4 linked regions of the Homo sapiens genome follow. The protein of the gene in region 2 interacts with the protein of the main gene of each other region in a pairwise test. Each region holds a gene or a part of one and is shown on either strand. Other genes may lie near its edges.

Region 1 (3,500 bases), on a different chromosome or scaffold from region 2:
CTAAATTACTTGTTTTAACATTGTTGATTATAATGGCTTCATTGCAACATACTTTATAATTATTATACTGTTATAAAATCTGTTGCTATGACATGCTAAATTCTAAAAGCCCAACAACTTAGTCAACATTTAGAAAAATGTTACATTTCAACAATATCCTTTATAGTATCATAATAAATTATGATATAAAAGCCTAAAAACTGCTTTTTCATATATATATAATTGTACCATTATTGTAGAAAATGTTCTGTTCCCAAATCTAAGAGATGTTCTGGCTTCCAAAATGTAGGAAACCAAAATTACATTCTTGGCACTAGACCTCATTTACCAATTATATATAATAAACTAAGGGTCAAATTTTAGATGATGTAGTTTGACATTTGGGATGCTTGTTTGGGAATATGAGGTGAAAATATTATATCACAATTTAATTTAGTACCTGCCATTACTTTCATTGTTAAGATTAATACTTAAAGTTTCTATCATTGCCTCACTTATCAGAATAAAAATGATAAAGTTGCCACAAGAAGGCAGCAACTTAGCAATGAAAAATTAATATAAGGAGAGCAAATGTATTTTTGGGCAAGGACAAATATGCTGTGTCAAGTCTTTGTGAACTTGCAGTATTCTTTTAAATGTTAAAATTAAATAAATTGATTTAACATTAAATAACAGATAACAAGTAGAACCAAGGTTTTAAATAAGTAATACATGGTCTGAATGAATAAATTTTAACTCTTAAGATTTTTTTTAAGTAATGATTTTAGCAGTAGCAACAACAAAGCTTAAATAATGCCTTCTGATGTTTTACTATTGGCAGATTTATCAAAACATACAAATTATTTGATAAATATATGTGTATAACATATATTAAAAAGTAAAAGTCTTATAAAATTATAAGAAGTTTTAGTTTTTATTTTGTAAAACTGTTTCTTATCACATCATTCTTTTCCAAGAATCATATGAAAATTCACTAACTTAAAAAGCATTTAATTGCATGTACCTTAAAATGATAAATAAAAAGTCAGGTAATATTTTAAGCTCTCAGAGTTTATCATAAAAATTACAATAATTTTATCAAATGGAAATAGAATTCCATTGCTTTGCTTCTGATGATGAAGAGAAACTCCTAAAATATTTTAATTCTAACTCAACTGTGAATTTTAACCAATAGCGTGTTCTAGCATTAAATGAATTTCAGATAATGCAGAAATTACTGAAACCTGTTTTCTGAAAATTTTAATGTAAAAGTACATTCTTTGTACAGTAAGCACTAAAATATTTGTTCACTTAATGACATCAATTTCTTATTAAACGTCGAGAAAAAGTACATAAATATCCAATACTACACTTACTGAATGAATATTTATTGAGCTTATTTATGTATCAAGAAACAAAGAGGAACTGAATATATGACTTTAAAAATACAAATAGAATATGAGTAACATTGGGCATCTTTTTACAAAGGAAAAAAAATTGAGTGTCATAGAAAGGCCTGCAATAAATCAGGTAAAAGGAGAAGGTTGTTTGAGGAAATGATTGATATTTAAGCTGCAAATTGAAGTTTAATAAGGCAGAAAAGCACAGCCAGACCCAGAGTGTACCAAGCACAGAAAGCAAGAAAAATGTTTGAACAGTGCAAGACCAAGAAGAGTCTGTGCAGTTATGGAATGTTAGGATTTGGGGAGAACATGGTATAAAAGGAAACTGGACAAACACGGACTGGTTCTGAAAAATAAGTATGAATATCAGAATCAGTTGAGTTGCTTGTAAAAACTGTAATATTGTGATTATTCCGAAGGATAAAACATTGGATCATTTTCTAAACATAGCTATTTACTCATTCTTCAACTGCCATGGCTTGATATTGTTGAAAAGATACTGACAATTGTAATCATTAACAACAACTGGAATGTAAGCTTTATGAAACCAGGACTGTGTCATTTTGCTCATAAGCCCAGCACCAGACACACACTGTATGTGTGCTCCATAAATAACTGTTAAGTGAAAGAGAAAGCAGATAATGACAGTCTCCAGGAAAAAGCCCTTCTGTATTTCAATGACAATGATTACACACAAAGCAAAATTAAGACAGCACTCTAAAAGAATCCAGTTACTAGACTTACCATAACATAACATGAAAAGGACTTCTCCGTACATTGGCTCTGAACTCTTACTGCTATTGCCAGAGCTGTTTTACATTTTATAGTAGTGAACACAGTGAGGCAGAGAGGATTTTTAATAAAATAACCTACAGATGAGTCCCAATTCTCCTTTTAGACTGATTGCCTCAATTTTTCTTTTTTATAACATAAGAAAACTCTTTCCTACAACCTAGTGTTATGAGGGAGAACTGAAATCATTTAGAGAAAATATTTATTAACTTCCAAATTCAACTCAAAAATGTCTAAAGTCATAAATTTATTTCCTAAAGAAGAAAACATCAACAGCCACTTCAGATACAAAATAGTGTATTTACTTTTTCCTCAAGTTGTACCAAGATGACAATCACTTTTTAAATGGACCTAGTCAATGGAGAAAACTCCCAAAAGAATGCACTATATGCCACTTGGCAGGCCAGTGAAGAGTCACCTAAAACCAATGTGAATGTTCCAGTAATTGATTTGCAAATATTCAGAAGGTAGCAGCTGGGTTCAACTACACTCCCTGTAATTGAGATATGAGAGCCATTGTCTAATGCCAGACACAACTATTTCCTTACATATGTATTGATGTTATACCTATTTTTAAGCTTTGCAGTATCCCTCAAGATTTGAATGTGTTTATCTTTCAGTCTTAAATTACATTGAATTTATTTGCTAGACTTATTTAGATGTCTGTTTTGTAATATCCAAATAAATCAGTCTCTTAAAGTAATTTTTTGTAATCAATACAAAAATAGATGACTATGGCTATAAAATAGTATCCTTTGAAAATTGCATAGTTTAGAACGTGAACACAGACTAAATCTCACTCTCTCAAGCCAACCTCCAAAGATCAAAAATGAGAAAAAAATAAAATCACTGGTAGCTGCAAACCTGTCAACACAATAAAGAGGCTTAGACTTATAGAAACTTGACGGATATGTAAGAGGTGCAATAAATGTCTGAGGGCAGCAGAGACTTCTCTGGAGACCATGTGGGAGCAGAGTCAGATGGGGATGGTGCAGAAGAGAAAACATGCGCTATGGTGGATGTCCTGTAAAGGTAGCCACATCACCTTAAGCAGGGAAATAACTGAGAACAGATCTCAGACCTGGAGAGCCAGAACACAAGCTACTATCAGAAATGTAATAAAGGAGATTAGAAAGTACAAGGGTCATTGTTTTCAGGTTTTTCAAGGTCATGGGTAGCACTCTAGATTGCAAGGGGTATCTTGGAAAGCAGGGCTGTCATTTAGAAACTTCCTGGAAAGGGACAGGAGGAAAGCAAGAAGTTGATATTAAGGGAATTATCAAAGAATCATAAGACAAATTGATTTTCATCCTCCTACCCAAAAGC
Region 2 (3,500 bases):
TGCAACCATATCTTCCATTCCATATGCTCTTTTTTTTTAATGAAATATTATTATACATTATTCTGTAACTTACTTTTTTCACTTGAATGCATTTCAAATGAATGTCTTAAATGCATTTCCATATCATTACACGCAGGGTGGCTTTATTTTTTTCTTTAATGGCTGAATAGTACTCTGTAGTATAATATATAGTAGTCCACCCTTAACCGTGGGGGATACATTCCAAGACCCCAGTGGATGCCTGGAACTACAGATAGTAACAAACCATATATACATTTACATATATATACATATATATATATAATGTTTTTTCCTATACATATATACCTAAGATGAAGTCTAATTTGTAAATTAGGCACAGTAAGAGATTAATAACAACTAATAATAAAACAGAACAATGTTAACAATATGTCATAATAAAAGTTATATGAAATGTAGTCTCTTTCTCATTCTCAAAATAGCTACTGTACTGTACTCACCTACATTCAGACCTCAGTTGACCGCAGGTAACTGAAACCAGGGAATGCAAAAATATGGATGAGGGCCCCAATGTACATTATTTGCTCATTTACTGACTGCTGCATACATATATTGTTTCTAGTTTCTCTGCTCAGTGTGATGTTTGCTGTGGATTTTAGTAGATAATTTTTATTAGATTTAGGGAGCTGCCTTCTCTTCTTTTTTTAAAATCACGTGCCTCTAGATATGCTCTATTCTTAACTTACAAAATTTATCAAATACTTTTTTGGCACCTACTGAAATCAACATATATTTTTCTTTAATTTGTTATATAAATTGAATAATCTTTACATTCCTGTTTATACTATTGGCACTGAATTTGACTTGCTGTTTTTTGGTGTGTGTGTGTGTGTGTGTGTGTGTGTGTATTTTTACCCATATGCTCTTTTATAACGTGACCTTGTTGCACCCCATCAAAAGATAGTCTGTTTTCTCTTTTGTTGCAACTGAGCAGGCTCTTGGACCTGTTTTGACTTGAGTTTGCAAGACAAGTGATACAGTGTAGCTTTCAAAACTGGGTCTTAGGAGAGCTGTGGCTTCAGCCTTCACTTCTTGGAACCTAGCCACCATATTATCCGGGAGCTCAAGCAACCATGTTGAGAGGCCCAGGTGGAGAAAAACTGAGCCGCTGCCAAAAGCTCTAGTTGAGTTCTCAGCCAGCAGCCAGCACCAACTGCCAACCACATGTGTGAGGCCACTCTGGACCTTCCAGCCATCCCAGTGCCCATATAACATCATACAATGCAGAACTGTCTGGTTAGTACACAGAAATAAAAAATTGTTGTTGTTTCAAGCCACAGAGTTTTGGGGGAGGTTAGGAGGCAATTTCTCCCCACTAAACAAAGCATTTAATGTTGGAGCAGAACCTCATGCCTAAAATATATCAAGTTAGTTCTCCATCCATCCACTGCTTCATTCATTCAAGTGTGTGTTTATTGAACATATACTATGCTAGATGCTGAGGACACAAAGATCAAATGCAGACATGTCCCTGTCCTTGTGGAACTCATACGGATGGGGAGACAGAATGTAACAGAGAAATCTAAGTACATGTTAAATAAAAGCGGTGGTGCTACTGAAAACTGGCACAAGGCCCTCTGGGAGCCCCTTGTTGGGGAACTGACTTTATCAGGAAGGTTAGAAGAGGAAGTGAAGACTAAACCCCCAGATCTCAGGGAAGATTAAAAGTTAACTAGGCAGAAGGAAGGACAACAACCTGCCACACAGAGGGCTCAGCATATGCAAAGGACCAGTGGCAAGAGGGAAGACAGTGTGTTCAAACTCTGTGTCCAGAGCTAAGAGATCATGGCTCAAGATGAGGCTGGAAGCAGGCAGGGGCCAGGCCAGGTATGACTTTGCTGGCCTCATAAGAGCAGACTTAACAAGGAAAAGTCAACAAACTATTCCCACTCTGATCAGATTTTCTCTTCAAACCCCAGTGGGAAGAGGACTAACTTGGAGTACTCAGCCGTATAAACTGTATGTGTAGTGACACCCATGGGTAGATATACTTATGGATATATAATAGATACTCGGGGTACATGGTCATTGAGCCCGCCCTCTCGTTCCTTGTTACATGTCACCGTACTGTTTGTAGACATCTCTGTCTCCATTGCTAGATTATAAAAATCTTTGAGTACAGGGGCTGTGTCTCATCCATCTTTTCATTCCTCCCCTACAATATCTAACATAGTGCTAGGCACATAGCAAATACTTAAGTGTTTCCTAAAACTTTAAAATATGACTAGATAATCCATTCATAAATAGCCTGTAAGAAGGGCTCTCCTGAAAGAAAATTCTATGGCCTCATTTGGAAAGCCACTCCAATGATGGCAACACTCTTAGGAAGGTCTTGCTGTAAAACATCATTCCTTTCTAATTTGGGCCAGTTCTTGAGTTTCATCCCCAATGAAGAGTGAGAACACTTCATCACATTTCCAAAGAAAGCCTTTGTGTGTACTTTGAAGATCATTTCTGGGTCACTCCTAGCTTTCTTTCCTTTCAGCGGCAAAGTACTTCATCTTCTCACCTTTCCTCAAAGAAGCCATTTATTTGCTCCCTGGATTCATTCCAAAACCTCCATCCCTCCTAAATGGTGGAAGCCAGAAATCTTGTAGACCAGAAACAAGGTCAAAGATTCCTGAGGGGCTTCATGAGCAGTCCTCAGAGTGGAAGCAGGCTCTCTTTCTCAGTCTGCTTGTTTTCCAGCCAATTCAAATGTTCATGTGTGTGCATGCACACATATGTGCATATATAGTCTCAGAAACACTGAAACTTTTTAACAAGCTCAAAGAACAAATATTGTCTTATTGGGTGAGTTGCCAACTGCCTTCTCTGCTTCACCAACAGCCCAGTCTTCCCCATCCAATGTAACACATCGATTTTTTTTTTAATGAAAGCTTTTCTCCATATTTTTGTAAATAATATGATAAAGAAACTAGCAATATATATATTTTTTGGTATTCCACTATCTTCTTCAAAGGCATCACAAAGACTGTGAAACAGCACCAAGAAATTTCATCACTCCAATGTATCAAGAATTCAAATATCAATAAATCACTGGTCATTCTACAAATAATGAGACTCTGTTTTTGTTTGTTTGTTTGTTTGATGGAGTCCTGCTCTGTCGCCCGGCTGGAATGCTGTGGAGCAATACTGGCTCACTGCAACCTCCACCGCCTAGGTTCAAAAAATTCTCCTGCCTCAGCCTCCCGAGTAGCTGGGATTACAAGCACACACCACCACGCTTGGCAAATTTCTTTGTATTTTTAGTACAGTCGGGGTTTCACCATGCTACCAGGCTGGTTTGAAACTCCTGACCTCAAGTGATCCGCCCACCTCAGCCTCCCAAAGTGCTGGGATTACAGGCGTGAGCCACTGTGACCAGCCCAAGGCTCTGTTAACGTAAGCAGCTGTTATGCTTTCATAAAAAATATTTTTTGGCATTGGGGTGATTTCAATTTTATCCGAAAGTTATTGTT
Region 3 (3,500 bases), on a different chromosome or scaffold from region 2:
AAGTAAAGGGCACCTGCCTGAAAGGTGACTTGTTCTGTTCCTACCAGGACATCACTGCACTGGAATCTCACAGCAGTGCCCTGGGTAGATTTTAACTTCCTGGGTTTTCAAACTTTCATCCTTTCTTTGGCCAGTTTTTGAGTTGATAGAGGCTAGTACTCATAATAATTGGGATACAGAGATGAGAAAAAATAGTAGGTGTGTATTTTTGTAACTTTGTGGGGGGTTTTTAAATACAAATACATTGTTTTAAGATACGTTTGAAAGTGTTCAGAAAGTCCTAAGGCTTTACTAAGAAAAAGTACTCTAGAAAGGATTCAGGCTTCTTACATTGCTATGAATCATAGGATCCAAAGGGCCATGTTCACCATATTCAATCTAGAAAACTCAGAATTTATCCAAGGAAATTCTTTGAATGCATAACAACTCCTGATAAGAAAGAAGACAGGCAGTGATATGGTTTGACTCTGTGTCCCCACCCAAATCTCACCTTGAATTGTAATCCCCATAATCCCCATGTGTCAAGGGCAGGACCAGATGGAGGTAATTGGATCATGGCGGCAGTTTCCCCCATGCTATTCTGTGATAGTGAGTGAGTCTTATGAGAGTTGATGGTTTTATAAGTGTCTGGCATCTCCCCTGCTTGCATTCATTCTCTTTCCTGCCACCCTGTGAAGAGGTGCCTTCCGCCATGATTGTATGTTTCCTGAGGTCTCCCCAGCTATGTGGAACTGTGAGGGAATTAAACCTCTTTTCTTTATAGATTACCCAGTTCTGGGTATTTCTTCATAGCAGCACGAGAATGGGCTAATACAGTAAATGCAGTGAGAAGAATGAGTAGAAATTAATATGAGCCGTGTTACAATTCTGAGCCCATGTGTTTTTTTCTATGCTGAATAGAAAACAAAATCTTGATAAATGCTAACGTATTAAGTGACACCATGGCCTTTAGGTACGGTGAGACAATGAAAAAATCATGAAGTTTTGTTAGAATCATACTAAGAACTAAGCCCTAATCTAGAGAATTGGTTCAAATAGATGTTTGCCACTTACCAGCTCTGTGATCTTGTGCAGATCAATCATTCTGCCTCTGTTTCCTATAAACTGGGGATAATAAAACCTATATCCTCCTCAGAGGGCCAGTGTTAGTATCATGTGAGATTATGTCCTCTGCAATCTCATCTTACCACTAATGTTCAAAACACATTAATTTATTGATTCAGCAAATATGCACTCCATCTCCACTGTTTTAGACGCTAGGGTATAAAGGTGAACAAGACAAAACTCTGCCTTCACACAGCTGACATTACAAACAACACTTTCAAGGTGGCTTTATGGGAGAGTCTTTCAAAATTGTAAAGTGCTTTAAAGTACATATTTATATTAAAGATCATGGGTATGTGGCAGCTATTTTTATGGTTTTGAGACCTGGTTTTCTTGTTGCTAATTTACTACTACAATCCAGAGACATGTGTTGTGAAAAATAGAGCAGCCACAAGGAGAATGAATTACTAGAAAGAAAGAGTATACCTACAGTAGATTTACCCTGAAGGAAAAGGAGGGTTTCTCCTCTTGGGGTTATTTCATTCTTCTTAAAAAATATTAATTACTTGTCTCATTTAAAAAGTATTACAGACTCATATAAAAACCAAAGAAACACACACACACACACACACATACATATATGTATATATGTATACATATATATGTATATGTACACGTATACATATACATATATATGTATATATATACACACACACATACATAGAGAGAGAGAGATTACTCATAACTTCACAATGTAGAAACAACACTTTTAACGAGTTCTATTTATGTTTTCTTTCTATGACTTTACTTAGGAATATATTGACAGTTGATATAGTATTTTATGCTAAAAATTCAATTGTATCTATTTTCCATGTCATTGCATATACTTTGAAATGTGACCAAGTAATATTCCTTTATATTATCCTACTCCATATATTTTGTAACCTTTCATCTTTTGTACATCAGTTGGATAGTTCTGACCTCTTGTTATTATAAATAATGATGCAATGCTGATTTTGTTCACAAATCATCGAATGCTTAAATTTTGCCTTAGTATAGATTATTAGAAAAGGATGTACTGGATCCAAGGGCAGGACATTTTAAAAACTCCAGATATGTGTCGGGAAATTTATTTTTTGAAAGGAAGTAGTAATTTAAATTCTTATCAGCAATTTATATGAGTCTATCACAGCAAAGTTACTCTTGAAAGGCAAATAATCAGACAACAAGCATCATCTGTTTTCTATCTTTTCACAAGCCTTTTGGAAATAGAATTGCCATGTAGTTGGTATAAGTAAACATCAACTCCCCACTTTCAATATTAAGAAAATCTGGGAGAAATCAGATTGGAAGTGGGCCTTAAGAGAAAGACATCTGTTTAAAGATTGTTCAAAGACCTTAAGGGGACATGTTTTTCAAGAAGTGAGAAAGTTGAGAATTCTGAAATAAGCTTATCTCATTTTCTCAGTAAAAGGTCTTGCTTTGATTACTTATTTTCAGATGGCCTGCTGTGTATACAGAAAAACTAAAAAGGAAATTAGGAGATGAAATGATTTCAGATTGAGGGGAGCCCAGATTTTAACTAAAGTGACTCAGGCCCTGTTCGCTGCTGACTTAAATAAAGTGTCTTTGGGTTATTAAAGCAGTGGGAGGAAGTATTGATTAGAATAGAAATACAAAATGTGCACCTTCTAAGAGATAGAATTCATTTTAGCTAAAAGAAGCTAAAATCATTCAGAAATGCACATTGCAGAGGTCAAGAGAGACAGCTGAAAAGGAACAGTTGGAGGCATACCATCAAGACCACTGAAAGTTCACTTTTGGAGACTTGTTCAATAAATCACAAGGACTTATCACAGAAAAAGGATCATATCCCTGTCAAACAGTACCATCGCAACGTAAATATGTTCAAAAGCCTGCATATCACCAAGATCCTTTTAATGCTTTGTGAACCGATTTAAAGTAACTCACCTGTGCTTAAGAATTAACTGCCTAGTCATCTAGAACTACCTAATCCCTCGCCCCACGTCAGCTATGCCTCAGAACTGATAACAAGGCTTGTCGAATTGTGAACATACAGCTCAGTGATTCAGGAACTAAAATCCAGGTACTGGTTGGCTAGGCTGCCTAACGTGGCACTGTTCATTCAATTTCCAAATATTTCAGTTTAAATGAGTAGCATAAATTAAGTGGCAAAATACAGAAACATATTTCTGTTAAAAATCAAAAGTATCATCTTTTAAACATTTGCTTAATGTGTTATTCACAGATGTAGTTCAGTCCAATGCCTATGCAATAATTTTGTTGTTTCTTCTTTGATTTCCTATTTTGTAGCATCAATTGTTTCATTTCCTCTTTTATGGACTCAATGCATTTACTTCTACGATATGTGTGGAAAACATGTGTACATGCATACTGCCCCTCAGTGCTACCCACATGCTGATACTTTGCTTCAT
Region 4 (3,500 bases), on a different chromosome or scaffold from region 2:
CCTGGAGCACAGTCTTTCAGTGAGAGACTCTCAGAGTTTATACTTATGAAATGAGGAATAATGCCTACTGCCAATTAAAATGTACCTTTTAATATGCTCAAAAATTTACAAAATATTCTAAGGCCCTTAGCACTACATCAATACAAAGTATCACTCCTATTATTAATGGATAATCGCTACCACTATATAGAACATTTAAGTCTGATGCTCTGTGCATTAATGAAATGAATTTGCTTGGTAAGTAAGGTGACCTTATACCAGCTCCCACAGCACAAACTGACAGGGGCTGAGGTAACCAGGTACAAAAAGGTTTTGAAGTCCTGATTCCAGTTTGAGTTATGTTAACATAATAAGGAAAAGATCAAGCTGAATTATAAGAAAAATGGGAATGGAGTAGAAGGAAAATCCTGGTACCAAAATATAGGGTTAGGAGAAATACATGGGTAACAATTACTGGGTGAAAGAAAGCATCCAACCCTTTAGCCATATTGTTTTTCATCTCCTGATCTGAATTTACACAGCAGGGTTACACGGCTGCTCAGCAGCTGCCCAGCTCCATTCCAAGGCAGGTAAAACTATTCCTGGGCAAGAGCATGCATTGAACAAAATCAACAAGCTCCATGCCTGCCTCCCACGGGAGACTGTAGACGTCAGAGGGGGCTCTGGCTTAGCGTGCCATAAGGAGGGCTGTGCAGAAAGAGACTCTGGTCAGGGCTCTGTAAAGCCCTGTGGAGTCTGTGGGGAACAATAAGAATGCAGAATATAAATGTAAGCTGCAGGCTGATGGGCCCATTAGGAATTAGGGCAGTCTTTGAAAGGAATCTGCAGAGATGATGCAAAACACTAAGCATGTGACCCAAATCATGGCAGGGCATATTGGAGGGAGAGGGGAATGGGAATGAGACATTTTCTAATCTGATTAGTCTGAAGTTTCCCCTGAGTGTGGAGAAGGGTCACTGCACAATTAGAGGCAAAGTTAGACTGAACATGGTCTGCTTAGCAGCTGAGCGGGATGACCTCCTCAAAGCTAAGCTGGGCTTGGAGACAGATGTGTTCAGAGACTGAGATGACTTCGAAGCAAGTTCTGAAACAATCTTTTTGCATTTAATGTCAAATCGTAAAGGCAAAGACAAAACAGTCTGCTGAGAGAATGAGAGGATGATGACTTGGTGGCCTCAGCACTGGATAAGAAACATGTAGGTCCTCCAGAGGCCAGGCTCCCACATTACTGGACTTTCCAGGACAACTCATCCTTAAGACCATCAAAAGATAATCTAATAAACATCCACAGCTTCCTGACTAGAAGACAGCTTAATGTGTGAAAGGCATTCAGATCCAATTGTTGAAAAACATGGCTTCCTCTACATAGAAAGACACAGGTTTCTTCCAGTTCATTTCTAAGTCTGAGTGTGTGGTCTATGGTCCCTGACTTAAATTTCTCTCCTAGTCCTCAATCAATTCTTTGCACCAGGTACTGTGCTGGGTACTTTATGTATGTTATCTCAATTAATCCTCTGAACCACTAGGAAATAGGTACTGTTACGTCATTCGAGAGATAAGGAATCTGAGGTTCAGGCAGGTCAAAACCCTTGCACAAGATCACACAGCTAATAAGTGGACTCAAAGAATTTAAGAGATGGGAGTGGAGGAGGGGGGTAAAATTGTCAGGATGTGACAACCCATTGGTTATTTATAGGTGGTAAATCACACAGAAGCAGTGTCTGCATCTGAATGAATCGAAGTTCAAGTCACAACTCTTCATTCCAAGGTAAGGGATAAAGAGACACATAAATAGCACTGTGAGAATTCTGAGCAGGAGATAATCACTCTGATTATCAGCCAAACGAATGCAACAGAGCTTCATGGATATGGTGCCACTTGAAATGGGTCTTGAAGGAAGAGCAAGCTTTCAGCAAGTGAAAACCATTGGGAGCTATTGCCTACTGATGAAATAGCAAGGGAAAAGGCCAAAAAAAAAAGGGGGGGGGAGGGGGAAGGCAGGAGGTATATGTGTAATATGCTAAACGGCCCATGTGGCTGGACTACTGGGAACAGGAAGGGGAGTTTTGGGAGTGGGGGATGATATCTGTGAAGAACTCTGAGTCCAAGGCCTGCCTACTTCATCTCAGTTCCTTCACGGCAGGATCCCTCACACGGCTGCTAGCAAATAAAAGCAAATAGAGTTAAACAAAAACAAAATCAAAACAAAACAAATAGAACTGATAATCTAGAAAATTATTCCAGGTTGATTCAATGCACATACACATCCAACTAGATTTGCCCTCTTCTGGGTTTCCCTCCTGATACCTTGGACCCTAGTTCCCTGACATAGAATTTGGCTTTATCTGTTCCTTTGGTTTCTCCTTTTGTCTCAAACAAGGACTCCCTACTTCAGACCCTATTTGAGAACAATGCTCCAGCTGCGAACCCTAAGCCCCACTATGGAGAAGGAGCTTAATTCAAAGTTAAAGAGCTGGTCCTTCCTTAGAGAGCAAAGAGACACCACAGAAGGTTTGTGAGTAAAAGTGCAATAAGATGACATACATTTTTGCTCTTAGAAGGTACTTAGCTGCTATATGTAAAGATGGATTTAAACATTTAGACACTGGTGGATGAAAGACCAATGTGGTGGCACCGCAGTATTTAAGAAGCAATGTGGGTCAGAACAAGAATGATGATAGTGGAAATGGAGAGGAGAGAGTAGAAGCAAGCAGTAAGGAGGAGGTAGAACTGTCAAGACATCCTAATCTACTGGCTATTTGTAGACAGTAACTCAAAATGATTAGAAGCAGAGGATGTGCATTTGAAAAGTTCAGGATTCAAATCAGAGCTCTTCTTCTTCTACACTATGTGACTTTGGGCAAAATACCTCATCTCTCTAAACCTCAGCATCCTTACGTATGAGATAAGAAGGATAACAGTTTCGACCTCACCAAGCTGTTCTCAAAAAGTAAATGAGATAATATATCCAAAACAATGATCACAATGCCTAGAACACAGCTGAAAATGTCAGAATTATCAAGATATATAAGTCAGAGGAGGAGCTAGAGTGAGTGATGCTATAGGAAGCATAAGAGATGGCCAGAGTCTAGGTGGCTGAGAGGGACATGCCAGGAAATCAAAAGTCAGGTTCAACAGGAGAACTGATGTGTTTTAGAAAGCAGTTCACCATGCTCTCATTTTATAGCATCATAATCTCTATGTTTTACATCTGGTGCTCTATCAGGACAGAGCCCCATGCTAATAACCCTAGGTTCTCTTACTGCATGTCTATAGCTATCAGGAACTGCTGCTTTGAAAAACCTGCCCTGAATTTTACATCTAATGTCCTCCTAACCAACAAAGTTGTGTATTTCATTTTGTCCCAGGAATCTGTGGATCTATAAGTGTGTATTCATGTTAAAAAGATAAAATAATAATTTGTAATAGGCTCTCTAACATTCAAAATCAAGACAAACTTTTCCTTCTGTAACACTTAAATGGAGGCAGGTCACCAATAA

What was found.
Region 1: the proteins of CACNB4 (region 2) and CCDC102B interact in binary tests that used the Homo sapiens proteins (3 or more experiments, as listed by UniProt).
Region 3: the proteins of CACNB4 (region 2) and PTN interact in a two-hybrid assay, tested with the Homo sapiens proteins (one large-scale study listed by BioGRID and IntAct).
Region 4: the proteins of CACNB4 (region 2) and EFHC2 interact in binary tests that used the Homo sapiens proteins (3 or more experiments, as listed by UniProt).

Annotation. Positions count from the first base shown.
Region 1 is NC_000018.10:68,892,080-68,895,579, reverse strand, and holds part of CCDC102B (coiled-coil domain-containing protein 102B), read right to left. Parts: intron 1-3,500. UniProt on the Homo sapiens protein: During interphase, forms fibers at the proximal ends of centrioles to maintain centrosome cohesion. During mitosis, dissociates from the centrosome following phosphorylation to allow centrosome separation. Contributes to CROCC/rootletin filament formation.
Region 2 is NC_000002.12:152,092,545-152,096,044, forward strand, and holds part of CACNB4 (voltage-dependent L-type calcium channel subunit beta-4), read right to left. Parts: intron 1-3,500. UniProt on the Homo sapiens protein: The beta subunit of voltage-dependent calcium channels contributes to the function of the calcium channel by increasing peak calcium current, shifting the voltage dependencies of activation and inactivation, modulating G protein inhibition and controlling the alpha-1 subunit membrane targeting.
Region 3 is NC_000007.14:137,232,234-137,235,733, forward strand, and holds part of PTN (pleiotrophin isoform 1 precursor), read right to left. Parts: intron 1-3,500.
Region 4 is NC_000023.11:44,172,673-44,176,172, forward strand, and holds part of EFHC2 (EF-hand domain-containing family member C2), read right to left. Parts: intron 1-3,500. UniProt on the Homo sapiens protein: Microtubule inner protein (MIP) part of the dynein-decorated doublet microtubules (DMTs) in cilia axoneme, which is required for motile cilia beating.